4 linked regions of the Homo sapiens genome follow. The protein of the gene in region 4 interacts with the protein of the main gene of each other region in a biochemical or structural test. Each region holds a gene or a part of one and is shown on either strand. Other genes may lie near its edges. The genes, in order: CPT1A, TMEM106B, UBE2F and TRIM2.

What was found.
Region 1: the proteins of TRIM2 (region 4) and CPT1A form a complex in vitro, tested with the Homo sapiens proteins (one study listed by BioGRID).
Region 2: the proteins of TRIM2 (region 4) and TMEM106B form a complex in vitro, tested with the Homo sapiens proteins (one study listed by BioGRID).
Region 3: the proteins of TRIM2 (region 4) and UBE2F form a complex in vitro, tested with the Homo sapiens proteins (one study listed by BioGRID).

The regions. Positions count from the first base shown.
Region 1 is NC_000011.10:68,768,916-68,775,942, forward strand, and holds part of CPT1A (carnitine O-palmitoyltransferase 1, liver isoform), read right to left. Parts: intron 6,518-7,027; coding exon 6,401-6,517; intron 4,515-6,400; coding exon 4,350-4,514; intron 1-4,349. UniProt on the Homo sapiens protein: Catalyzes the transfer of the acyl group of long-chain fatty acid-CoA conjugates onto carnitine, an essential step for the mitochondrial uptake of long-chain fatty acids and their subsequent beta-oxidation in the mitochondrion.
Region 2 is NC_000007.14:12,207,240-12,214,301, reverse strand, and holds the start of TMEM106B (transmembrane protein 106B), read right to left. Parts: upstream 3,009-7,062; 5' UTR 2,877-3,008; intron 102-2,876; exon of another isoform or gene 1-101. UniProt on the Homo sapiens protein: In neurons, involved in the transport of late endosomes/lysosomes. May be involved in dendrite morphogenesis and maintenance by regulating lysosomal trafficking.
Region 3 is NC_000002.12:238,019,007-238,026,033, reverse strand, and holds part of UBE2F (NEDD8-conjugating enzyme UBE2F), read right to left. Parts: intron 693-7,027; coding exon 622-692; intron 1-621. UniProt on the Homo sapiens protein: Accepts the ubiquitin-like protein NEDD8 from the UBA3-NAE1 E1 complex and catalyzes its covalent attachment to other proteins. Together with the E3 ubiquitin ligase RNF7/RBX2, specifically neddylates cullin-5 (CUL5).
Region 4 is NC_000004.12:153,270,439-153,277,465, forward strand, and holds part of TRIM2 (tripartite motif-containing protein 2), read left to right. Parts: coding exon 1-81; intron 82-5,454; coding exon 5,455-5,692; coding exon of another isoform or gene 5,693-5,731; exon of another isoform or gene 5,732-5,830; intron 5,831-7,027. UniProt on the Homo sapiens protein: UBE2D1-dependent E3 ubiquitin-protein ligase that mediates the ubiquitination of NEFL and of phosphorylated BCL2L11. Plays a neuroprotective function. May play a role in neuronal rapid ischemic tolerance.

The sequences.
Region 1 (7,027 bases), on a different chromosome or scaffold from region 4:
CCTCACCAACATGAAAAAAAGCCTTTACCAACCCCGTAGGCAAAAATCTAGTCTTGTTTAAGTTGTACTTGTTAGATTCTTGGTAAGATTAAGCTTATTACCTACACTCATTGACCGTATTTTTCCTCTCTTGTGAACCACAGTTTCTGGTCTGACTCCTTATTTCTCTTGGATTATTTTTTTCCAAAGGCAACCACTTAGCCAGATTTCCCAGCTCCATTTACTCACCAGCTCCCCGTCCCCTACTGATGTCAAATGCTCCCTCCATTACACGTTATTTCCCAGGCCTGCTTTTGTACGAGGACTGCAGCATTTTATTTTTATTAAAAACAATTTTTTTAAAGATAGGGTCTCACTGTCATCCAGGCTGTAGTGCAGTGGCACGATCACGGCTCACTGCAGCCTCCACCTCCGGGGCTCAAGTGATCCTCCCACCTTAGCCTCCGGAGTACCTTGGACTACAGGCATGCGCCACCATGCTGGGCTAATTTTTTTTTTTTTTTTTTTGTATTTTTTGTACAGATAGAGTCTCCCCATATTGCCCAGTCTGGTCTCAAACTCCTGGACTCAAGTGATCCACCTGCCTCAGCCACCCAAAGTGCTAGGATTATAGGACTGAGACCACTTTAATCACAACAGTCTTCTAACTCCTACACTTTAAGTTTTAGGATTTGAAAAAGTACATGTCCACCTCCCCGTGTCCTGCCTCCGCCTGATTGCTTTTCTTTTCAAAAATGTTACAGGTGACTCTCAAATGTTAGCCTTTTCAAGCCTCAAGATCAACTGGGCAAGCTCCTCTCCTGAAGCCCCTGCCTGACCTCTCACTGTGTTCATATTAAATGTGTGAACTAAGCCAGGCATGGTGGCTCAGGCTTGTAATCCCAGCACTTTGGGAGGCTGAGGCAGGCGGATCACTTGAGGTCAGGAGCTCGAGACCAGCCTGGCCAACGTGGTGAAACTCCGTCTCTACTAAAGATACAAAAATTAGCCAGGTGTGGTGGCAGGCACCTGTAGTTTCAGCTACTCGAGGGGCTGAGGCAGGAGAATCACTTGAACCTGGGAGCCGAGTGAGCAGCCGAGGCTGCAGTGAGCCGAGATCGTGCCACTGCACTCCAGCCTGGGCAACAGAGTAAGGCTCCGTCTCAAAAAAAAAAAAACAGTGTGAACTGGGAACATCCCTTCCTCTATGGTTCTGAAGTTTTTTTTCATCCAAAATCATGGCTTTTTCTCCCTCTCCCTGGGGAGGAGTTGGGGGGCGAGTGCTCCTCGGCCTTCTTCCCAGAGTCCAGTCTGCTTTATACACGTATGCCTGGAAGGTGGGGCCCCAGATTCTCGTTTCTATTACATTCTCTTATTATATTTCCCACTTGGCCATCATCCTTGTGCAAGAAAGCTGGTGGTCTTTGTGCAACTCTGCGCTGGGCCGGCTCACTGGGTGTGCCTCTTAATCGTCAAAGCCTTTCTGCTGTTCCATCTCCTGAACAGACATAAATGTTCTTCCTGCCCAATTACCCTGTCATCTGCTAGAGGCATCCTCATCTTTCTTGTTTTAAGGGGACTGCCTCCCACACTTTTACTTTGAAGCAGTAGCTAGCTATTAATACACGATGCCACTTATCCTGTTAAGGAAAGAGCCCTATTACTAAGCCCCTTGACCAAGAGCTCTTATCAGGAATGGATGTTAAACGTGAAACGTCTTCTTAGGATCTGTGAAACTCACTATCTAGGCTCTTCTCTGACCCAACAGTATGGTTTAGTGTATGACTGGATTTACTGACACAAAACCAGCCTCTCACCGCTGGTGTACGCCACTGTGGGTGACTATTCTTTTCCTACAGTGCTGGATTCTAGTTGCTAAGATTTTATGGAGGGTCTCTGCACTTCCATTCATGCGGGAAGCTGGTCTGTGCTTCCTTTTTCTGCGTTTAGCTGCAGCACAGTGATGAGAGCCACAGGTTCTCGAACAAGCCTGCCTGCTTCCGATCTCAGTCCTGCTGCGTACGAGCTGGAGCCCTCAGGCAAGATGCTTCACCTCCGAGTGTGGAGGGCAGAGATGAAGAGATGCCTTCCTCGGGGCCGTCCTGAAGTTTCGCTCGCTCCTGCCAAGTACATGGCACAGTGGCTGGTGCCCCTTGCAGCTCATTCCCACACCTGGGCCACGTGGGTTCTGGGGAGCAGATGGGGTGGCTTCCTTTGTGGAGTCTCTGAGCTGCAAGCTCTTTGGAGTCACAAGGGTGGCTCCCTGACAACCTCTCACTTTGGTCCCTGGACCAGAGGCCTTTTCAGGTTTTCTACCTTGAGTCAACGTCACCAATTTGTACTGCTTGCAGAATAGTCATTTCAGCATGTTTCAAAATGTACTAAACTGGAGCGTGGCATTTCCTTACTAAACTCCTAAGTCCTGCGCTTACTTGCAGGGAATTCTTTTAAAAAAGAAAAAAATTTAAAAAGATAAAATAACATCCTTTCTGTAGGTAAGGTATCAACTGCTTGCATGCCCTCATACTGCACGTTTACGGGCAAAATCTGCTCATCAATTCTCAAAATCCAGCTCACTGATTCTGAGATGCGATGCCTCTATTCCATGTCACCTTTTAATCACATGATCTTTAGTCAATGATCTGTCACAGACAGGAGCTTGTCACTGTGCTCCTGGTACTCTGCCCAGCTGCTTCTGGTTTACGCATAGTGAGCATGTTACTTGGGAAAGCAAGGCTTCATAACTGTGACAGTCTTTACAGACTGTATTAGCATGCATTTTAAATACGATTTTGGCCCATTCATTCCAGTTCATCTGATATTAACACTGCCTCTTACTTCTCTGTAACTGTTTTCTTAACTTTAGGTGGAGAGAGCATAGACTCTGGAGCCGCTGGCCCGCTTTATCCCTGCCTAGTGCCACCCTGGCAAGCACCTGGCCTCTCTGCACCTGTTTCCTCACCTGTAAAATGGGAAAACAAGATTTTCTGAGGCATAATGGGGACTTGTAAATTTTTAAAAATGGGATAACAAGAGTGCCTCCCAGGTGCAGAGACAGTGAAGCATGAGGTACATGATGCACCAAGCAAAATTCAACAATGGCACAATCGTTACCAAGGTTGGGGGGGCAGTGCCACACGCTGCATATGTGTACAGCACTCAAGTTTTAATACAAGGCTGGGCACGGTGGCTCACGCCTATAATCCCAGCACTTTGGGAGGCCAAGGCGGGTGGATCACCTGAAGCCAGGAGCTCGAGACCAGCCTGCTCAACATGGTGAAACCCCATCTCTACTAAAAATACAAAAAATTAGCTGGGCATGGGGGCGCACACCTGTAATCCCAGCTACTCGGGAGGCTGAGGCAGGAGAACTGCTTGAACCCGGGAGGTGGAGGTTGCAGTGAGCCGAGATCATGCCATTACACTCCAGCCTGGGTAACAAGAGTGAGATTCTGTCTCAAAAAAAAAGTTGGGAATATCTCAAGCCAATGCCACGATGACTTGTGCTGCCCCCAGAAACCAAGGGCCCCCTGTCTGGGATGGAATGCTCCCTCCAATGGACAAGAAGACCCATTTATGTCCCTGCTAGGGGTGCAGGCTGCTCCTCCAACAGGGGTTGCCAGGTGCAAGCCAAAATATGGCCAGTGCTCAGAAAAGGGAGATGGAAATGCCATGTGTATACAGGGGATCCAGCCCATGGCACCTCCAAGTGGCTGGAGTTTCTCCTTTTATGGAAGGAGATGTCAAAGGCCAGAGACGTTAAGTAATTTGCCCAAAGACATCACTTAATAGCTATATAATATTCCACTGTATGAAAATACCAAAATTTAATTTAGTATGGTGAAAGGAAGATTTACTCTGCCAAAAGGAAAGGATTAAGCTGAAAGCTAAGTCATGCAAGAAGCTTTTTATTTTGTTCCCAAGCAGAGAGCGACAGATGAAACGTGGACCATGTTCACCTGACCTGTGTGAAGTGCAGATTTACCGAGCGCCAGACGAATACGTAACTGACTATTCCCCTACCTGCCCACACTATTTCCACTTTAGCAAATGCTAGGATTCGGGGCTTATTATGGGGCTTAACTCTCCCTCTGTAGAGTGATGAGATCTCACTTTGTCCTCATCCCCCAGACTCTCCCTCTCCCGTGTCAGCTGGGAATCTACGCCTGCTGGAGGGGGATTTGCGAACTTTGCCCGCGTGCGTGGTGAAACACCCAACGCCACCCGGCCCCCGGAGACCGGGGTCGGGGGGAGCTGTGCTTCTCCTATGCCGGGTTTCGGGCCTTCCCTCCCCACTGGGTGAACAGTCTTGGGCAGGTGTAGGAACCCCCAAAGTGCTCACGACAAAACCCTAGGCGGTCAGTTCTTACCTTGTAGTGCGCCAGCTGGAGGGCCAGCTGCACAAAGGCGTCTGGGCTCGTGCGACATTTCTTGATGATTCCTTTACCAAAGGCTACGAATGGGAAGGAATGGAAATCCACGTCGTTTGCCAGAAGATTTGCGGTGTTCAGGGAGGTCTCTATAACCTCTTGACACTTGAGAGAAAGAAGAAAAAGGTTTTACGGAACGAGGGGAGAAAAGTACTGACGCACACCCAGAAGGAAATTGGAGGCTGGTTTTTAGTGCAGCTATAAACTCGGTACTGGGAAGTACACAAACGTTTTCCTGACCCAGAAGCCCTAGTAAGTTAGGGGCATGGCTCCCTGACCCCGGAGGAGCAGCTGCAATGTTATAGCAGGTAGCGGGTCTGACATGAGCAGGCCAGGAGAGGGCTTCCTCCGACACACACTGGGAATATCACGCGACCATCAGTGATGGTCAGGTGGTTGTGAACTGTCTCTCTAAAATAATAATAGGTCACAGCCGGTGCCAGGGAAAGGCAGTCTCTCAGTAGATAGAAATGGAGCTGGTGACCAGCAGCTTCCCGATAAGATCTCAAGCGTTGGGCGAGTGGGCTGAAGCATGCGCACTGAGAGGCAAAATGGCGGCGTCTAACTGGACTATGAGCTTCCTCCAGCAGTGCTAGACAGGCAAGGGCAGAACACCTCAAGTGAGCATGCGCACAACTCCAGTAAACATACTGCGCATGCTCCCTTCCCAAGCGCTGGAGCCACTGTGCATGCGGACAGCCCACAACAAGGGAGGAATTGGGAGAAGTAACACAAGACCCTGGACGCATGCCAATGTATAAAACCTCAAGTCAAGAGGTCAAACCTCGCACTTAATCTCCCAAGTTGGCCGCTTGGCCCTCTTCCAAATGTACTTTCCTTCCTTTCGTTCCTAAAGTTTTTAAAATAAACTTTCCCGCTTTTAAACTTGGTCTCTCCTGCCTTCTGCCCCACAGTCAAATTCGTTCTGAGAAGGCAAGAATTGAGGTTGCTGCAGACCCGTACAGATATGTTCTGACGCTAACAGGAACATGGGTAGGGGACGGGGGCACCCTGGCTTCCAGTGAGACCCCAAAGGGTGTTTCAAATAGTCACACGTCATCTTATGATGACGTCATCACACAGTGGCAATCAAGAAACACATTTTTTTACTTTTTATTATTAATTTTTATTTATTTGAGATAGGGTGTCCCTCTGTTGCCCAGGCTGGAGTGCAGTGGCACCATCGCTGCTCACTGCACCTTCTGCCTCCCTGGTTCAAGCCATTCTCCTGCCTCAGCCTCCGGAGTAGCTGGGACTACAGGCACTTACCACTATGCCCGGCTAATTTTTGTATTTTTAGTAGAGACGGGGTTTCACCATGGTGGCAGGCACCTGTAATCCTAGCTACTTGGGAGGCTGAAGCAGGAGAATCGTTTGAACCTGGGAGGCAGAGGTTGCAGTGAGCTGAGATCGCGCCATTGCACTCCAGCCTGGGTGACAGTGCGAGACTACATCTCAAAAAAAAAAAAAAAAAAGAAAAAGAAAATGGTATCTTGGACTCCAGGGAATTTCTCCTTGGATTAAGTGAACTAGGATTTGGTATTTGCAACCCTAAAATTCCTTCCCAAAAGGGCTCCTGTGAATGGGCTGCCTCTGAGCATGTTTAAGAGGTGCCAAAATGAATTAAACTTTGAGAAGTATAAATGAGCAATTTAGAGGCTTTCAGCTCTAACCTATGTGATTTTGGCTTTTAGTTTTTGATTATGAGCATTCTGTAGATGTCTAGTTAAGTTTAAGCTGGAAATAGCGCTGACAGTCTTAGCCAGGAGCTTCAAACAGAAGAAGAAATATTTACCGAGGCTTCCGAGGCAACAGGAGCTGTGACAGCCCCGCAGACCCACGGAACTCCCTGAGCAAACAACTTTCAGCCTCAGTGGTCTTCAACTGAGCTCATGATAGGGCAGGAACTACGGTTGGAAAATTCATCTGTAAGACTTCAAATGTGTTTCCCATCCCAGGTAAGTAACAATGGTTGGATAATCCGGACTTACTTCCCCCGGGATGTCCCACTGCAGCCTGGTGGGGTACGGAATGTTCGGATTGATGTCGCCTTTGCAGTGCCCATCCTCCGCATAGCCCAGCTGGAGGCTGTCAATGGACATGACGTACTGTCAAAAATAGAACAAAATTATTAAAACTAACAGTGGTACATAAAACACATTAACCTCCAACATGAAGAGAGGGTTGTTCTTTGCAGAGATGTTACAAAGTTTGAATCACAGCTGTTAAGGCTTCCAGTATGCTCAGCACCTAATGAGGTGGATCTGATCTCCATGTCAGATGTGACAGAGAGAGGACAGACGAGGGCTAAGGGCTTGCTCAAGTTTGTGACGCTCTCCTTTCACTGGCAAGTAAACCTAAGCCAATTTATTCAACGGTGTTTATTGGGCACCTACTATGGGTTGGAACCACTGTAGCATCAGCGGCATCCAAGCCCTGGTGACAGCGCAGACAAGAACTGTGTTTTGTGAACAAAACAGACAAGAATTCTTGCCCTTCCTTAAAAAGTGAAATATACCTGTATGACCCAGCAGTTCCACTCCTAGGTACATACTCACTGAAATGAAATGAATAGATGCTCACACAAAAACTTGTACAGAATGTTCAGAGCAGCATTA
Region 2 (7,062 bases), on a different chromosome or scaffold from region 4:
CCAGGTAGCAGGCTTCAGAGAGAATAGTTTGTAAATGTCTCTTATTACTCCTTAAAATATTCCAGGCTCTTGGTTAAATCGCTGCTGAATTAGGAAAAGATCTGGAAAGGAAAGGGGATTCTGTACAGAATGTGGATCTTCCCCACGAGAGACAGCTTTGCAAGGCCATTTCAAAGAAATATATTTTGGGGTAAGATATTTCAATTTCTCTCAGGGCCTGCTATCTGTCGAGTGATTCTATATTAGAGTCAGGTTGGGATTTGATATCTTATTGCTACAAAGAGACTCTTGTTAGTCTTCAAATCTCTGTTTTAATTGATGCTGGTCAGTTGTGCCTGAATTCCAAAGAGAGGAAGGTACAACGGGGCATGTTCAATCCCCTCCACCCACCTTTTCATCATGGCCTGAACTACCTTTTTAGGTTTACTTTGGAATGCCCTTGACAGAGAAGCGGGTTCCACTTAGTTGGGGGGCTCAGAATTTTATTTTTGGTTTACAGAACAAACATTAAGAGAATGTTCAAACTACCTTTTGGATTATACCTTTTGGATTAGGATTATATCCAATCAAAATAATGTCTGAAACAAAGGAGCCATTTACTAGAGTCCAGAAGTGTTTTTTTAAACAAATAATGTGAAATGATGTCCTATCATGCTTATGATGAGAATGGGCTTTCAAACATTAACATTTGACAAAAGTCTACACCTGCAGGTTCTCTGAAAAGAAACATGCAGGTTTCATTTTTCTTAAAATAAAATAAAAATACATTCTACCTTTTAACTAGTTAGCACTAAAGGCAAAAATTGCTTTGGGTAGACGATAACTAGGTATTTGATGTATATCACCAAGTAACTTCAAAGTAGTACGTTTCAGCCTCTGAAAATTCACGCACCTTTGTGATAAATACAATCACCACTCTTTTCCATCCTTAAATTTCTTGCTTTAAACATTTAAACACTCGCAACAACAATAAAAAGCCCCAAAATTCCAAAATCACAGTTTTTTTTTCATTCAACAGTTGACAGTTAAAATTATGAAGCCAATGTTCCAAAATATTAAATATAAGTTACCAATACAAAGCAGCAAAATTTAGAACACTAACTTCAAAAATTTTAGGATAAGAGTATCAAAATAACAATACAAATGTAAAAATCTAAGTAGAAATAAATAATTAGTACTAGTGCCTACACAAAAATAACTTCTGCAGGTAGATAATGAAGTAACTTTATACTTAAGGTCATACCCTTTTAAAGCTGAAAAGAACTTAACAGTCATATAATACACCCTGCTGGTATTTTCCTGCTTATATCCTGAGAAAAAATAAAGTGAAAAAGTAAAACTGAAAAATAACATAATTATACTCCTTCTAAATTTGATATGTCTTTTAGCGGTTCCTAAAAATAGATTACATACATTCAGACAGATAGTATTTCTTTCAAAAATTCTCACTTATTTGATTAAACAAAACAGACATTCCAAGTAAGTCAGTTCATCCTAGAGTATGAAGAAAATTTTACTTTCTAGAACTGGCATGCCTGATAGGAGCCTGCTTGGTGGGTACAATGTGTGTTGCTCCAGTGCTGGATGCACTAAGGGCTCTGACTTCACCAGGATGTTGTGTATCAATGTAGCAAATGGCACTTGTACTCCATGAATATACACAAAATAAATACAAAGATAAAAAAATAAATAAAATTCGCATGCCATCCACTTGTTGCTGTCACTCAAATAAACAGAATTTAAAAAACTATACAAATGGTATGCAAACAAATGTAAAATGAGATTTTCACTCTTTCAAAAAAAAAAAACTATGTATTTATAAAAATCACTGCCCACATCAAAAATACAAATGATTTATGACTTCTAAAAAATCATTGTCTTAATCAACACCTGTCAGCCACAGGTAGGATAGGGAAGACTTAACATCACTGTCCCCACACACTGTAACCTTGGGGTCTATGCGGAACACTAGATGAATTGGGATCATTGGGCCTTATCAGCAAGGCCTTAAGGGCACTCTTTCTGGGATCTCAGTCAACACAGCCAGGCTGTAAGCTGCATCTTAACTGGAGCGCGTTGAGAAAAAAGACACAGAAAGGCAGACTCAAGTGGCTCTCCGTTTGAGCCTGTTTTCTGTCCTAATCTAATAGCTGCCATGATCGATTCTGCTTTAGGGTAGGTGTTTGGACAAGTGCCAGACTCTGTGAGAAACTGGGAATCCCTTGCCTTCTCTACTAGATTTTCCTTAGAGAACTGACAAGTGTAACCACTTTTATTCTTGGGAGACTCAATGGTTTAAAAAAGGGGTGCTAGACCCTCTTCTGCAACCTCTGTGGGCTCAGTGTTATTTATTATAGCGGTTCCTTAGTTTACTGAAAGTCAACATGGATATCAGACTCAGTTTGGAGAGAAAAAATATATCACAGCACTCCAATTTAAATGGCTCCTGATCTTCTGTGTAGACACTGGTTTTAGTTCTAAAAGGGCTTGAGAACTAAGGAAACAAGCGCCTTTGAAAAGCTCCATAAACAACACCTAGCACAAAGCCTACTCTGTAAAGCTGCAAAATAAGATCCCGGCACCACGGCAAGAACATTCATCAACAGCAAAAGGAAGAGGGCCACCTGGCGCTCAAGGTGTGAGGGCCTAGAGGCAACCCAGAGGTAGGGCTTGGGCCGAAGCCGAGTGTTCCCTGGCTGGGCCTCATTAGAGGCGACACAGCAACTCGATCACCAGCCCTGACCGCCGCCGTACCTGCGGCTGGCCCAGCACCCCAGCGGCCTCCCCTCCTTGTCAGGCCCGGCTCAAGCCGCGGCGCAGCCGCTCAGCCTCGCTCCGGAAGGGGACCTGGGGACTGCACGTCCGGGGTCGCTCACCGGCACGCGGGGCGCTGCGCAGTCCCGGGCTGCTTCGGCGCGGACAGGGCCGAGGACAGGGTCGTGGAGTCCACAGTCCCGGGAGCCGGGGGGTGGAGCGACCGGCCTGGAGCGCGCGGCCGCCGTAGAGCTGGGACGGGGGAGGGGTAGGATAACGACGGCATCAGCAGAGGCCAAGCGCTGCTGTAACCTGCGTCCGCGCCTGCGCAGAGCGCTCCCGGAGGGACACCCCTGGCGTGCGCGTGACGCATGCGTCCTTCTTCCTCCTGTTTGAGCCCAGAGGCGTCGATCGTGTGAGATTGTGCGCTCTTCAGGTTTCATTACCTTCGCGTCCCCCAGACTTCAAAGTGTCCACTGTAGCCACGAATTACCTAGGAACAGTCGCTCCTCCTATTTCCCATATCAGACCATTTCCTTTTGCAAAGGGTATAAATGTGCACCATCTGCCTCAGCTTTCAGCTGAGCAGCCTCCTCGCTCACGCAATGCGAGTTGTCGCTGACAGTCTGGTCCTTAGGAATGGAATAAACTGGTCCGTACACACGCCGCTGACAGCAGCAAAGCTACCTCTATTTTAATTTAGAAACTGGCCAACTAGAAGGAGACAGCAAGCGGCAAGGCCGTAGTTTTTGTTTTTGCTCGGTTTCGTTTCGCTTTGCCCACGCTGCCCCTCCCCACCCCTTAACTCTGGTGCTAGTTACAGGTGTGTGAAATCCCGTCTCGGATCCCAGTACTTAAGCTCTTCGCTGTGGGTTGGGGCTGCCCTCCCCCAACGTCTAGGTCATTTCACTTAGAAGATAAGAACAACGACAAGGAGTCGTTTTGAGGGATCAATGAGATGCCGGTAATAATATTAAGGGCACTCTAGTCTCATTCCTGCGGAGAGTTTAACGTTTAATGAATGGTAGGCATTCTTACAGTCACAGGAGCAAGGAAGTGAGAGTCATATATTTCTCTCTTCTAACAGGATCAGTGTGATCCTGTTAGAATCAGGGAATTCTAACAGGAATTGGGAAATGAAGCTATGTAAAAGTAGGAAATACAAGTCAGAACGATATACAATTTAAGAGGATTACTGTAGATCCATATGTGAGATAATGAGCTTTCTCATACAATGTTGTCGGAGATTTAAAACTCCTAAGTTTTCTGGCAGACAGTCAGTATGTATCAAGACTATTAAAATGTTCACATCGTTTGGTCCAGCAATTCCACCCTTTCAGAAGTATCCTAAACCTAATGAGAACTCTAAAAAGATTTGGGTATGAGGTGTATCCATTTAAATAAACTGAATGTCCAACAAGGGACATTGATAAAATCATTATTTTTCAACCGCTTTTATTTAGCCCATATTTTCCAAAGGGAAGGGTCAGGGTGTCTTCCATTAACACTGTTTGAAATTTCAAAATTAATAGGTTGGTTAAAACAAATCAGAATCATGGGGGAAAATTTTTCTCAAAATTATTGACAGTCCACCTGTGGAGATATGATGTTCCCCTTGGAATTACTGAGTTTTTAAAATTATGGAATAGCCATCTATTGAGTTTTTATAAAGCCAGTAAAAACCATCTTATAAGGCTGTTATACGCGGAGTGATATAAAATTAAAATCAGGATGCAAAGTATAGGATATGAGGTATTGTAATAGGATGTAAACTATATTCACATATAGATAACATATAGATATAAATATATTACATATCTGCCTTGAAATGGAAAGAAATATACAAAATATAAACAGTTGCCTGTAGTTTGAGAGCATGGATGTTTTTTCTTTATTATTGTTAAATAGGCAAATGGTTCTATAATGTAATATATATTATTCTTAAGTGAAAAAGTTACTTTTTTCTTTAATTCTTAAGGGAGTATTTAGTATTTTCTCAACCTCATCATTTAACTTAAAACGTGCTGGCCATATAGCACAGTTCCTTATCCAAATTCCTGGAATTCACATAGGAATAAGTCTTCCTGGGAGAATGTTGCTGTAAGAAGCAGTTCAGTAGCAGGGTTGGGAACACAGCCTTGGGAGCCATATGGCCTGAAAATGAGCCCAGCCTGACAGAGATATACAAAATCTCTGTAAGAGTGGGCAAAATACTTAGCCTTCTTTATACCTAATTTTTATTATCTGCAAAATGAAGATAGTAATAATGTCTGTCTCAAAGGGTTATGGATGGGAGCTGATACCTGCAGAGCAATCAGTAAATATTAGATATTATGATTACAAATTTATCATCCATATAACAAGGAAGTACTTTAAAGACAGATATTGAATGTTTGGTACATTTGTTCCTATGCCTTATTTTTCATTGAAGCACATTTTGAAAGGAAAATTTTCTGAAAAGCTTCCAATTATTTGATTAACAGTGATTTCTTGAGTTCCGAGTTCAGTAGTGGTCTAGGTGCTATCAGATATAAAGGCCAGTAATTTTAACAGTCTGGGATAAGTTTGAATAGAAGAACATTCTTTCTTAATGATTTCTGGTTATATTTAGTATGATGCTGAAGCTAAGGGATTTCTCTAGGTTGTACTAAATCTTGAAAACAGCCTTATCTCTCATTTCAATTCTCTTTTATCTCTTTTAATGGTAAATCACCCAAATCCTAATAGCAGTCAGCCATAACTAAAAATTTTGCAAAAATTACTTTTCTAGAAATTAGCTGTTAAAAATTATAAGCAGAAAAGGAACATAATTATTTTGAAACATATAATTTGTCAAATGTTAATATATAAGTCTCTCTCAGCTCACCCCCTTCCACTGATATGCTGGTCAGATTATGTTAGAAACCTGGATAGGTTACATTGGAAACCAGGGATTGAAAAGATTGAAGTTTGTCTGGCTGATTTTCAGAGATAGTGCCCCAGATACATAGCAAAACTACCATTAGCAAAACTACCATTTCCCGCTGTGCCACCTGACTTACATTCACAGGCAGTAAACTCCTGACTCTATTGACACATCTTTGTCATTCCAATTATTTTAAAAGCAGAGGTCTTTATTAATTTCTGCAAATAACTTACCTATCTGAAACTCTTGGTTATGTCTCTGTACTCCTTCTTAGGCAGGATCTTCTATATTTCCTCTGTCTCATTCATCTTGCTTCACACCTGCATGGAGCTAATCTTTCCCATGTGTTAAAACTTTCTTTCCCAAATATTCAAGTCATCTTTTGTAGGGTTTTTGTCATAATCATAATTTCTAGTAAGAATAATTTTAGGAGTTCAATAACACTTGGCCAATGAATGAATTTGTTGTGCCAGGCATTGTGTAAAGTAGTTTATATCATCTAATTTTTATAGAAATGCTATGGATTAGGTTCTGTTATTATCCCATATCTTATTTCAAACAGTGGAAATAGAGGATCCTAGGTATTATGACTTGCACATGACCACACAGCTAGCAACTAGAACTCGGATATTTTGACTGCAAAGCTACAGCTATTAACCACTGTGGCATGAATATCTGTATTAAATTTGGAAGAGTGAATTCTGTCCTCAACTTTTACTACACAAAGATAAGTGATGACGGTGAGTAAAGTTAACTGGTTAGGGGGGGAAAAGAGGGTATTTTCACTCTTTTGCTAAGTGATCATCACTGCTGCTGAAAAGAGGAGAATTGGGTCCAGAAATCCTTGAGGAGGTGTTCCGAATATAAAATAAGGAAAACACAGAGTCCAATTAGGATTTATGTTATAAAAGACTGTTTCTTCACAACAAACACAAGCTAGAGAAGGTTTTTTTTTTTTTAAACATTTTTAAAAAACTTATCAAAGAAATGAGGACGCAAATTTAAGTACACTTAAATCCAAAAGATAAGGAGAGCTTCCTAAGAGAGAATAGAATTAGAGTTGCTTTAATCACCTACAAAACAGTGGGAGAAGGAGGAATGCACCATAAACAGGGCCGAAGGGAGACCTGCCGAATGACACCCCTGTGTGTGGACCAGGATGATAGATTACAATCTCATGTCGTTCCAGTGATAGAACGAGTGTGCACTCACTCTCCAATTCTCTCCTAAAGGTCTTCATTAAGTGCTCAAATGTCATATGTTAAAGGCATGGGGTAGGGCATGAATGCTGAAGAAATTTCTTTGCAGATTCTAGGCCTTTAACCAGTGTACTGCAGCAGCTCTGTGAAGGCTGGAGGCAGGGTGGCAGGCTGCCCAGGATTCTCCTGAGGCACAGAAATGAC
Region 3 (7,027 bases), on a different chromosome or scaffold from region 4:
TTACTTTAAAAACCAACCAATCCACCTACACAACTTTTCCAGCAGCCTTAGGAGGAGAAATCACTGATGCCTGACGTTCTGCCCATGCCAGGGATCAGGGACACAAGTCACAGCAGGCATGAAGCTCCGAGAGGCTGCCTGCCCTAAGTGCCCTGACATCTATCAGGACCATTTTGGTAGAGAGAGGGCAGCTTAAATACAAGTGCCCAAGGTCGTCTCAAGCCTGCCATCTACATTTTTTCTCCTGGGTATCTATCATTAATCATATTTTCTCATCTTAGCTAAAATCAGCCACATGGAGGGAATGTGGTCTCTCATGTAAATAGGAGGGGAACAAGGCAAGGGACTCCAAGGGTCCATCCTGGGCAGGCAAGGAGGCTGCACTAAGAACTTAGTAGGGCTGTGGCCCCCAGAGGGCCAAGAGAAGACACTCGTCTGGAGGCAGAAGGTAGGGTAGGGTTTGGGAGCAGGCAGGCAACCGCAGCTACTTCAGCTGAGTTCAAGCCCTTCCTAATCTTGGCCATGCCTCAAAATCTTTTCAGAGGAGACAACATGTTTAAAAGCCCAACGCTTGCACATGACACTCACGAATGTAGAAGAAAGAAAAGACAATAAACTCACCTCAGACATATTTCCCCTGTCTCTGTGATGTTGGGGTGCCAGATCTTGGTCAGGCATTTCACTTTGGGAGGCTGCAACACAGAGACAATGAGAGAGATCACGCCGACAGTCTCTGCAAATCACATCTCCAGGCCAGAGCCTTACCACATCCCCTATCTAGACGCTTGTTTCATGGCTGACTCAGTGTGCAGTTTGACTCGCTGAACACGTGTTCAACCCTGAATACTGGCTCACCTCACCCATGAGGCATGTGTTGATGCGCTGCATCCACAAGGGCTAGTCTCAGCAGCAAAGTCTACCCGTGGGCTTCTGAGCACCTCTCTACAAGCCCCATGTGTCCTGCCGGCTGACAGTGCTGGTGACTGGACCTCTGTCACCTCCCACACCCCCTGGGTTTGGGACTGCAGAAGGTATCCACAGTGCACTCTAAGGAATAGTTCTACATCCTCTGGGTCCAAATCCAATCAGAAGCCCCAGATTCCTTTGCAATACAAGTTACTATGGCTGAAAGTTACTGCTCCTTGCAAGAACAGCCTGTTCCATTTGCTGGATTTTTCTGAAGATGCTATTGTCACATACGTTTTCCTAGATGAAAGCCCTAGTCCACTTTACATTTAAAGGAGAGAAAGAGAATGAAAATGAATTTGTGGGGATAAAGTATATCAACATCATTTATGACTTGGCATGTTTGGATAAAGTTCTTTTAAGATTTTTCTAGTTTGGGCATGGTGGCTCACTTTGGGAGGCCACCTAAAAGAAGAAAATATAATTAATGATAGATACCCAGGAGAAAAAAATCTCAGCACTTTGGGAGGTCGAGGTGGGAGGATTGCTTGAGGCCAAGGGTTTAAGATTAGCCAGGGCAATATAGTAAGACCCTGTCTCTCCAGGGAAAAAAAAAGAGCTGGGCATGGTAGCTCCTGCTTGTAGTCCCAGCTACTCAGGAGGCTGAGGTGGGAAAATCACTTGAGCTCAGAAGTTGTAGGCTGCAGTGAGCTATGATCGCACCATTGTACTCCAGCCTGGGTGACAGAGCGAGTCCCTGCCTCCAAACCAGAAAACCAAACCAAACCAAACCAAACAGATTTCTCTGTTACAAAGGCAATCCATACTCAGAGAGAAAAGGACAACACAAATGAAAAGAAACATACGTAAATATCTAATAAATTCTGCTGTCTTTCACTTTTGTTTTTTATGTAAGAATATATACACTCCATCAAAATGCTACCCAGAAATTATGTGACACCTGATGTACATGTGTTTATGCCTCTTTTCTAGGCCACACACATAGTGTGCATGCAGCATACTCATTTTTCTTTATAGAAGAAAGCTGTGCTACATATGTTTTAGTTATTTCTGCCATCGTTTCAGATGGCATCCTGCATTCCATGGTACACCTGCCCGAGTTTAATAGGCACTTCCCTACCTCTGGGCCCTCAGGTTGCTTCCTCTTCTCCCAACCCTGCTCTATCAATGCAGGGTTCATCCTGGGTGAAATGTTTCCTCAGGATGAAGCCCAGGAAGAGGATCTGCTGGTCATAAACCCTAGCTTCTGATACACTGCTCATGTCCTTCAGAAGATGTGACACCCCGCCCGCCAACCCCACCACAACCTGCAGTAAGGGAGAGGGCCTCTTCTCCAGGACCTCCCACAGAAAGGTCCCCTTGGTTAATATGCAGAAGTGTCAAATCACAGGATCTCATCAGAAAGGTCATCTCAAAAAGGAATCAAACCTTTGTGAAATGGGTAACATTTTCCCTGTGTATCATCTGCTATTAACTTTTATTTATGATGCTTTCTGAGGAGTTTATTTTTGTAATCAAATTTTTATCTTTGATGCCATACTTAGAAAATACTTCACCATCCAAATATCCTCTTTAACTTTCTAGTAAACTTTTATAGTTTCATCTTTTTATTTATTTGTATAAAGCAAAAATACTTTTTCGACACTATAATGAGCATTCTTCCTAATTTCAAAATACCACAAAATCAGTAGATTCCAAAAAACTGATTAAACTGACTGTGCAAATCCATGTGTCTGAGGACAAAGAATTTAGGTTCAGAATGAGTTTAAATAAATTTCACATTGTGCTTTTCTACAAATAAATGGGAATGTATTTAATAGAAAGGAGGAACTGCATCTTTCCCTTCTACTGAGGCATTTGGGCTGCAGAGGGAAGGTCAGACTGCCATGAGGGGCAGGGCTCTGTGCCCCCTTCTGGGTCACTGGATGGTGGCAGGCTAGTGCTAGGCCAAGTCACCAACTCTCAGTTTTTGTAGGAACCTAGAAAATTGGCAAACTCACTCTCCCTCCCAAGCAGGTACCCCTTCTGCGGAGGCCCTCACACATGACCATGCAGCCTGGTGCTACCACATCTCCCAAAGGCTTGCGGGTATTCGCCCTTCCTCCTGTCCCCTTCACACCTTCCATAATTTGATGTTAACACAGATACCTCCTTTTGTCAACGGTCCTCTTAACTGTGGTTCCAGAACAGAGGGCAAAACTCTGCACCTGGCTTCTGACATACATACTTTCCAAACTGAATTAGGCCTGTAGCCCCTTCCCCCCAACCCCAGTGGCCCACAGCTAGACCAACAAGCAATGCCCAGCCCTCCCACATTCCCCCTCAGTGCTTGGCACGGCCACCATCACTCACCCTGCCAGAAGCCTAATGTATGACAAATCTGGCCTCTCAAACCAACAGAGAACTGGGTTATTTGGTGGGTCACTGGCTACCCATTTGGAAAAACACAGTGTTCCAAATGCATTAAAATTAAACATAAAAGAGAATTATAGGACTAGAAGAAAATGTAGATGACCATCTTGGGGTCTGAAGGCTGCTTTAAGCATATCATAACATACAAAACTCAAGCAGTGAAACAAAAAAACCAAACTTGTATAGAACAACGACTAAAGACGGCAAATGCAAAACAAAGAAAGTATTTACAGCATAGCTAAAAAACTGAAGAAAAAAGTTTCACATACTTTGCTTGTAAGGACTCTAGTAAATCTAGAAGAAAAACAAATATCCCCAATGGAAACATGGGCAAAGGACATAATAGCAGCTCATAAAAAATATAAACAGCTTATTAGTGGGAAATACTATTCAGCATCCGACTTAAGAAATGAAAATATAATGCTTGAATCCAGGAGGTGGAGGTTACAGTGAGCTGAGACTGTGCCACCGGACTCCAGCCTGGGGGACAGAGCAAGACTCTGTCTCCAAAAAAAAAAAGAAAAGAAAAGAAAAGAAAAAGAAATGACAATCGGATATTAAACGAGATACCATTTCCTCCCAAAATGGCAACAACAACAACAAAAAGGCAAATATTCTACCTTGGTAATTGCTTAGGGAAACGGAATTTTCAAACATGGATGGTGAGGATGCCAACTGGCATTCCTCTCTGCAAGGTAATTTAATAGGATTTATCCAGAACCTTAAAATGGAGCATCAATTACTCAATACCCATAATGCCATGTCTAGGAACTGATCCAGAGGAAAGAGGCAGACAGACATAAGATGCATGCCCCAGACTTACCTCACAGCCCTATTTATTCTGGGGCAGCAGACCACAGCCTACAGACCAAATCGAGGCTGGGACTGTTTTCACATGGTCAAAGACTGGTTTTTACATTTCTAAAAGGTTATTGAAAAAACAAAAAAGAATATGGGACAGAGACTATGTGGTCCACAGAGCCTAAAATATTTATTGCTTAGCCCTTTACAGAAAGTCTGCTTTATACTGCAAAAGGTTGGTCAACCAGTGACCAATGATAAAGGACTGGTTTAAATGATACATCATACAAGGAAGTGCTCTTATTAATAATGATGCAATTGTGCATTGACTGACATGAATGTGTACGTCCATCATATTATGACGGGAAAGCCCCAAGTTACCAGACTATGTGTAGCATCGCCCCATTGGTATGTGGAATTTATACTGTCTGCAACAGACATTAGAGAGTCAGGGTGATCATCTCTGGATGGAGAGATTACAGGTTATTATTATTCTATTTTTGCATGGCCGTGTTGTCTCAATTCCCTACAAAGTCTGATAATTTCATATGAAGAAGAAGGGAGAGTGGGAGTTCAGGTGTCACTTGTGGTCGTCATCACTGCTGTTCAACAAGTGTCTCTGGCTCTCCTCCTCCAGGGCCCATGGCAGGACTGGCCTTCCTTAGTCCCTCCGGGCTGGCCATGGTCATGTTATCTGATTTGGCCAACAACATGTGAGGAGACGTGGTGTCTTCACTTCCAGGAGGAAACCAGAGCCAAGAACAAAGAGCTGTAATCCTTTCTCCTGCTACAGCACACAGCTTCCTCCAACCAGTCCTGACCGACGCACCTGAGGGCTGTGTGACACCACAGGCCAGCTAGGGTCTGGGCTAAGGCTCTCTCCTCCTCCAAGGCATCCCCAGGCCATGTCACGTGCTCCTCCTCTGGGCGTCCCCACCAGCCTGAGGAATAGCCGTCACCCACATCACCACCCGGGCTCCTCATTGTCATGTCAGCGTCTGTCTCCCCAGAGACTGAAATTCTTAAAAGGCCACCAAGTTCCCATCCTTGGCCCTCCAGTGTCTGACACGGAGCCTGGCACAATGTAGGAGCCCACTAAATGTCACTACATCCGTTTGGACAGTTTCTAAACTGACAAATTACAAGGCAGGCTTTAGGCTGGGAGTTAAACTGCAGAGGCAAAGGAACAAAAACACAAAGAAAATTTGAATTTTGGCTGCTGGGATATTGGGTGGGGTGGGGGATTCCAAATGGACATTTTTCTTTTAAAAGTTTATTCTAAAATAACGATCGACTTTATTAAAGGTTTTCCACATTCACAGTCTTAATAACAGACCTTCACTGCAGGAACTGTAACTCTTAGGAGACAAGTCCTTATGAAGTACAGAAATTGTGTCAAGTCAGTCATGGCAGTGAAGCAGATGCACCCTGAGAAGCCCCAGCCCATCCCTAGGCTCCGCACTGGCTGCTGTATCCGTTCTCACTGACCCACCTGGTGCCCTCAGAGTGTGCCCTCACACTCTATCCTGAATGCCTGTGCCTATGTGATTTTCCTATGCTGACTGAATTATTTCATCTCTTTTCTACACTAAGTTTGTAGGGGGCAGAGAGAGGGGCAACCACTGAACAATTTGTGTTTTTGCCTAGCATGGCAGGCACAAGCTACACACCGGAAATAGTGTGGGCAAGACAGCTGGCACTCCCTCAGGGCTCACAGCCCAGTGGGAAAGAGATGCTCAGGAGAGTCTGTAAGCAATGATTCATTATAAATATGGCAAATGCAACTACTTTTGTGTTCAGCCAAGTACTACACCCTAATGATCCCCTGGAGACGCCCTGCTGGGGACACCAGTGACATATGCTGGCCCCTAGAAGTTGCCCCACACTTGCCTGAATGAGAGGCAGACAGGAAGAAAACAAGAGAAGGGAACAGGAGGCTGGGTTCAGTGGCTCATGGCTGGAATCCCAGTACTATGGGAGGCCAAGGCAGCGGATCACCTGAGGTCAGGAGTTCGAGACCAACCCGGCCAACATGGTGAAACCCCGTCTCTACTAAAACTACAAAAATTAGCCGGGTGTGGTGGCAGGCACCTGTAATCCCAGCTACTCCGGAGGCTGAGGCAGGAGAATTACTTGAATCCAGGTGGCAGAGGTTGCGGTGAGCTGAGATCATGCCATTGCACTCCAGCCTGGGTGACAAGAGTGAAACTCCATCTCATTAAAAAAAAAAAAAAAAAAAGGCTGAGCACAGTGGCTCCCCAGCACTTTGGGAGGCCGTGGCGGGCAGATCACCTGAGGTCGAGAGTTTGAGACCAGCCTGACCAACATGGAGAAACTCCGTCTCTACTAAAAATACAAAATTAGCTGGGCGTGGTGGTACATGCGTGTAATCCCAGCTCCTCAGGAGGTTGAGGCAGGACAATCACTTGAACCCGCAGGCAGAGGTTGTGGTGAGCTGAAATCGTGCTAGCCTGGGCAACAGAGTGAGACTCTGTATCAAAAAAAAGGCAGGGGGGACAGGAAGGAAACGCTGGGGAAAGGAGAGGAAAGGACCCTACAGAAGCAGGGTAGGAACATGGTTCATGCAGAGCCACCAGCTGCTCTCAGTACTTCTGGGTTTGAGAACATGGGGTTTTATTCCTGATGAAATCTGACCAGCCCATCATTTATGAAACTTCCAAAAGAGACAGCAGTGGAAATAGAAAAATGTAAGATCATCGTTACAGAGCTAAAGGTCAAACACAGCACACAGAACTTCAGAAAGGCTGCATGGGAATGATGTTTCCCCACAGGGACTAGTAGTGGGGAGGGGAGAGGGGGGCTGGGGAATAGCAGGTCTGAGACAAGGACAGGAAAATTTAAGCCTTACCCCTCCACCTCAACCTCT
Region 4 (7,027 bases):
GCAGTTTCTGATTTGCAGTATATGCCTGGAACGGTACAAGAATCCCAAGGTTCTCCCCTGTCTGCACACTTTCTGCGAGAGGTAAGCCTCCTTTGTGCTTGGAGAAGGGAGTTTCGCAGGCTGACCTCCTACAACCTACTGCAGGATTCTTTCCCAGAATTCTACAGTTACCTTTGAGAGAAAACTAATCTCTTGTGCTTCTGCCAGACATTGAAAAACAGAATCATGAGTTGCAAATAATTTACTTTATTTCAAACCATTATAAGCAAGAGAAAGCAATCCAGTAACTACTGATTCGTTTACACAAGAGATGGAGCATTAAATAAGAATGTTAAGTTGAAAAATCTTTTAAAACTTCCCTTTGTTCTTTGTGAAACAATTTTTGTCCACAGCAGATCCCTACAGAGGGTCTTTCAGAGTCAATTAAAAAAATCTATCATTTCCTCCCATATAACAAATCAGGTAAAACATCTGCATACATGAGTTGTTACTTCAAAAGGTATAGCTTCTTTTTCAAAGATTCTTCAGACACATACTAATGTCACATTTGAATGCTATGATGTTTTAGATAAAGAAAAAATATATATTAAATAAATTACCTGACTATGTAATTTGCTGTATGTGAAAACAGACTTCCTTATTTATCTTCTTCATAGAGTATTTGTTTTTGGAGAGGGGCGTTAATCAGTTATCAAAATATACTTTTACCCCATTGTTTAACTTACCATGTAAGCAATTAAGCATAAGTTTGTTAGTAATTAGTTTATCTTACTTATAAATATTTCCCTAGTAAAGTTATGTATCTTTCTTAAAAATAAATATGGTAATTGTGTTTTATAGCATTTTGTTAAGTACATTTTTATCATTATTTAATATACATACTTAAAATGCTTTACTTCCTGTGATAGAACTGGAAATCAGTATTTCAAATGGCTTCAAATCTATGCTGATTACACAAATATCTGATTTAACATGTCTTTATTATCTGATTGACCATTTTTTGAGTTGATTTACTTTGCAAGGTTCAATTGCAAAAGAATAACCATATCCTTCATGGTGGTGATGGATAGAAGGAGAAGGTAGATTTGTTACTAGTAGTTGTGGCTTTTTTGTTTGTTTTGGGTTGTTGTGGGGTTTTGTGTGTGTGCGTGTGCTTGTGTATATGGGTTTTGGTTTGTTTTAGTGGTGGTATATAGGGCACTTTTTATTTTATTCATTTTATACTTTGGCTTAAGTGCTTGGTAATTCATATTACAAAATAATTAGAGTGTGATTCCTCCATCCCCTTAATGGGTGCACCTAAAACATGAATACCAGCTAATAGTCCATGTGTCCCTGGGCACACATGGGAAGATCGTTACCTGATGTGCAGCAGTCGGCATAGCTTGGCTGATACTCTCTATAGAAGTGCATTCAGAGCCACTCAGTCTGAACTTGGCAGAATTGCCCCATATCCCAGTATTCAGTGTCCAGCCTATCTATTGTTTGGGTCCTACTTCCTCACTCTGACAGGTGAGAAGCAACACTCTGGCTGCCCTAGGTCTGCCCCTGCTATCTTCTTTGGGGATCTAGCCCAACCCACTTCCACTCCCCACCCAATAGCTGGTGGTAGAGATTTGTGAGATTCTGCTACAGCAAGTCCTTACACAATGCTCTGTGTTAAAATTGTTCCAGCCTCATGCATGTTGAGATGATTTCCTCTTCTTTTTTTATTTTATTTTTAATTTTGAGATGGAGTCGCACTCTGTTGCCCAGGCTGGAGTGCAGTGGCGCAAACTCAGCTCACTGCAAGCTCTGCCTCCCGGATTCACGCCATTCTCCTGCCTCAGCCTCCTGAGTAGCTAGGACTACAGGTGCCTGCCACCACGCCCAGCTAATTTTTTGTATTTTTAGTAGAGACGAGGTTTCACTGTGTTAGCCAGAATGGTCTTGATCTCCTGACCTCATGATCTGCCCAGCTCGGCCTCCCAAAGTGCTGGGATTACAGGCGTGAGCCACTGCGCCTGGCCAGATTTCCTCTTCTTTTATTTTTTATTTTATTAATTATTTATTAATTTATTTATTTTGAGACAGGATCTCACTCTGTCACCCAGTCTAGAGTGCAGTGGCACAATCACAGTTCACTGCAGCCTCAATTTCCCAGGCTCCAGAGATCTTCCCACCTCAACTTCTTGAGTAGTTGGGACCACAGGTGCACACCACCATGCCTGACTATAGAGACAGGGTTTCTCCATGTTGCCCAGGCTGGTCTCAAACTCCTGAGCGCAAGCAATCCAACTACCTTGGCCTCCCAAAGTGTTGGGCTTACAGGCGTGAGCCACTGCGTCCAGCCGAGAAGATTTCTGTTTGAAGGTGTTGAAGGTGCTGGCAACTTTCCTTAAAATGGGGTTTTTTGTTTGTTTGTTTGTTTGTTTGTTTTTGAGACGGAGTCTTGCTCTGTCACCAGGCTGGAGTGCAGTGGCGCTATCTCGGCTCACCGCAACTTCCGCCTCCTGGGTTAAGTGATTCTCCTGCCTCAGCCTCCCGAGTAGCTGGGACTACAGGCATGCGCCACTATGCCCAGCTAATTTTTGTATTTTTAGTAGAGACGGGGTTTCGCCATGTTGGCCAGGATGGTCTCGATCTCTTGACCTCGTGATCTGCCCATGTCGGCCTCCCAAAGAGCAGGGATTACAGGCATGAGTCACTGCGCCCGGTGGGGAAATTTTTGTTTATGCAGAGACAAAACTTTACAGCTTGTCTCACTGTCAGGAGAGTGAGCTCTAGGACCCCCATGTTCAGCCTCTGCTGGACATTCATACTGGCTACTCAGTGAGCACCTTACAGTCACTCTTTTTTTTTTTTTTTTTTTTTTTGAGACAGAGTCTCGCTCTGCCGCCCGGGCTGGAGTGCCGTGGCGCGATCTCGGCTCACTGCAAGCTCCACCTCCCGGGTTCACGCCATTCTCCTGCCTCAGCCTCCCGAGTAGCTGGGACTACAGGCGCCCGCCACCACGCCCGGCTAATTTTTTTTTTTTTTTTTTTTTTTTGTATTTTTAGTAGAAACGGGGTTTCACCGTGTTAGCCAGGATGGTCTCGATCTCCTGCCCTCGTGATCCACCCGCCTTGGCCTCCCAGAGTGCTGGCATTACAGGCGTGAGCCACCACGCCCAGCCCTTACAGTCACTCTTATCCCACATCTTCCAAAACAGCATCAAAAGGCTTGAAGGAGAGCAAAGCCAGACATAGCTGCTGGCCCCTTGGAACTCACAGCCTAGTGGAGGAGCCAGTCACTAACCCCCTAATTGCTCAGACTAATGTGAAATTAAACCAGTGACAAGTGCTGTACACCAGAAGTATACAGGAAACAATATAATAGAGGAATTTGCCCTAATCTGGGAAGGCTTCCTTGCAGAAGTGATGATTACGCAGAAACCCCAATGATGAGTAAAAATTAACTAAACAAAGGGGAGTGAATAGAATTTCAGGTATGTGCAAAGGTGCTATAGTGGGAGGTTGCTATAGTGAGTGAGAGGTGCTACAGTGAGAGGGTTATTCAACACTGAGGAAGAACTTAAATAAGTCCACTGTGGCTGGTATGCAGCAAATGAGGGGAAGAGACAGAAAGTATGTAGGTGCTAGGCCATATGAGATGTGTAATCCATGTTGCCATATATGGATTTTTGTCTTTGTTGTAAGAGCAGTGGAAGTGGAAACCATGGCATGGCTTTCATCTCAGATGGTGTGGGAGGGAGATTTAAATGGCTCTCTTTGAGTTTTGAGAAGGTCACTCTGGTTGCAATGTGGATAATTGTTAGAGGGTACAAGGATGGTTATATAGCAGGGCATGAAGAGAACTGGAGAGGTTAGAAAGATATGTAGGCATTTGGACATGCTTTGGTGATGGGTTGGATATGGAAAATGAAGGACAGTAAGGGAGTTACTGTTTTAAGAATGACTCCTAGTTTCTGGTTTGTTTAAATAAATGGATGGAGGTGCTATTCATCAGGAATGGGAGAGGATACAGTCTGGGGTTCAGATAATGGGTTTGGTTTTGTTCATGTTGAGTTTTAGGACCTGCAAGACATCTAAGAAAAGATGTCAACAGGTCAGTTAATGAGGCTCAAAGGAGATGTCTGTGGGAAGAAATATAATTTTGGGAGCCTGATGCTTGTAGCCACACCTGTGATATGAATATAATATTCCAGAAAGAGAAGAGGTCTCATGATGAATGGAACCTTGATTAACTCAAAACTGTATTGACTCAGAAAAGACAGAGCAGACAGGAGAACCATGTGAGTGTGGTGTCATAAAGTCAAGGGAAGAGAAATTTTTCAATAAAAAGGAAGGTGAGCAGAGCAATAATCAAGCTTAATGATACTTCCCAGAAGTCTAGTAAGATAAAATTGAAAAACATCTGCTGGATTCAGACGTCGTTAATGACCTTAGCAAAAGCTGTTTCATGTCTGGTATTGGTTCAGGGCTAGCTACCTCTGTGACATAGACAAGATCAGTGAATGTCTCTGATGTCAGGTCTATTCATCTGCAAAATAAGGGGAATGGGGCTAGGTTGGTGTGTTTTGAATTGTTTGGCTAGGTACTGGAAAAAATTGTATAGTCTAATTATTGAGAGCTTAGATTATGGTGCCAAACTGCCTGTGTTTGAATTTGTACTTTGTACTCTGCTCCTGACCAGCTAAGTATCTTGGACAAGTACGCTGGCCTGTCTCTGTCTGTTGCATCACGTGTCTCAAGGAATCATAACAGTACCTATCTCATAGGCTCATTGGAAGTACTTTGAATTCAATGAGCAGCATATGTGTGAGTCATTATTAGTGACACACTTCTTTAACTAAATGAGTTAAGTTGATACCTGTTGAGTAGAGACAAGGAGAAGAGATGGTGTGGCTCTGACTCTGGGTGTCCCATTCTTGCTTCAAGCAAATATTTCCACTTTGATGTGTTTTTTATATCTCATTATGATTTTGTACGTAAGAAGAATTTTATTGCTAACAAAAATATTTGATGTGTTTCTTTCAATTTCAAAGTCCACACATTTATGAGCCCACTGCTAGATATTGTGGGCCAGTGCTTCTCAAACTTTAACATGTATGCAAATCACATGGGGAGCTGACTCAGCAGGTGTTCGATAGGGTCTAAGATTCTGCATTTCTACCAAATGCACCCCCCAGGGAGGCTGACGCTGCTCATCCATGGACCACACTTTGTGTGCCAAGGCACTAGAAAACACTACAAAAGTCAATGACATTTTTTATTTCCTTGAGCATAATCATTTGCCTCATTAGTGTGAGTACAGCTTACCTGTTGGTTTCTGAAATATTATTTTCCTAGTAAAGGAGACTGGGATGGGAGTTTCTGCCAAATACCTTGTGTAGTCACTGAGAACATGTATGGTACCTGTGAGAAGTGGAGGTTCTGCACTGTGCTAAGCTCTCCACCTCTGCTTCTGCAACAGGTGCCTGCAGAACTACATTCCTGCCCACAGTTTAACCCTCTCCTGCCCAGTGTGCCGCCAGACCTCCATCCTGCCCGAGAAAGGGGTGGCCGCGCTCCAGAACAATTTCTTCATCACAAACCTGATGGACGTGCTGCAGCGAACTCCAGGCAGCAACGCTGAGGAGTCTTCCATCCTGGAGACAGTCACTGCTGTGGCTGCGGGAAAGCCTCTCTCTTGCCCAAACCACGATGGGAATGTAAGTGGCTGGGATGGCAGATACTGCCCGGGAGCATGACTACTGTGGCCTTGGGGAGGCTTTGGGTACATCAGAGATTACAGATTGAAACAGAACTCCATGTGGAAAAATCAGTAATTAAAAAAGATTTTTACCAGCCCTCAGACTACCTGCTCACTTTCTTTGACCAGAACTATTTAAATAACGAAATCAATCTCCACTGTGTCTCCTTCACACATATTGTTGGTATCCCCAGGACAGCAAACCAGTAGCTATTTGCAAGCTGACCTACATAAACATCTGTGTAATAAATTTATGGATACGGATTTAACAATGGATAAGTTCTGTAAGTTGAGAATGATTATTAAAATGTTAATTAGAGTTCTTTATTTTTCTTGGGAGGGAAATTTTCTCATGCTACATTAGACCTTATTCCTTATTAATAGATAGAATTTGAAGCTATGTGAATCCCTGATAGTAGATTATAGATTATGAATTCCAAACATATTTCTTGCTACTAGTGAGTACAATAACTGTTAGAAGCTCAGGAGGACCTGTGGGTACCATCAAGTAACTGATTCACAATAGCTATGTAACCTGAAGAGGCAGCATTGTGTAGCGTCTAAGGACATTGGCTTTGGAGTCAGGCTGCCTGATTCAAATCCTGCTCTTAAACTTATTCCCTGTGCCAGCTTTGGTAAGTTTATTAAACTCTCTGCGTCTCATTTCTTTATCAGTTAAAAAAAAGTAATAATAGTATTTACCATATAGAATATTGGAAGAATTAAATGTTCAAGTCATGTAAATCATATAGTAGGATCTTGATAAATGTCAGCTTTAACATTTTTTCATTAATTACTTTATATTCATCTCATTTGTATATTGGTCACTTCAAAAGTATTTGAAACTGCTTAAAACAAAAGGCCCAGGTATAACAAAACCACTAAGACAAGCAAGCAATCATTAGAGCAAAGCAATTCTTATTAGCCACACTACTGTTTGTTTACCTCATCTCCCAGCATTCTCTCTGCACACTGTGCTGGAGCCTCACCAGCCTCCTAGAACCTGCCAAATGGTTTCCCTCCTCGGGGCCTGGCTGTTCTGTTCCTTCTGCCTGGGTTGCTCTTTGTTTCCTCTTTATGTGGCGAGCTTATTCTCTTCCTTGAAGTCTCACTGCAAATTTCTCCTGCACACAGCAGTCTTCTCCACCTGTACCGTCTAACACAGGTTGCCTCTTACAGCTGGTTACCCTCCATCATGTCCCTGCTTTCTTTCCTCCCTGGTGCTCACTGTGGTCTGCTTGCCATCAGCTGTGTATTTGTGTACTTATTAGTCCTGGCTTTCCCTCTAGAATGT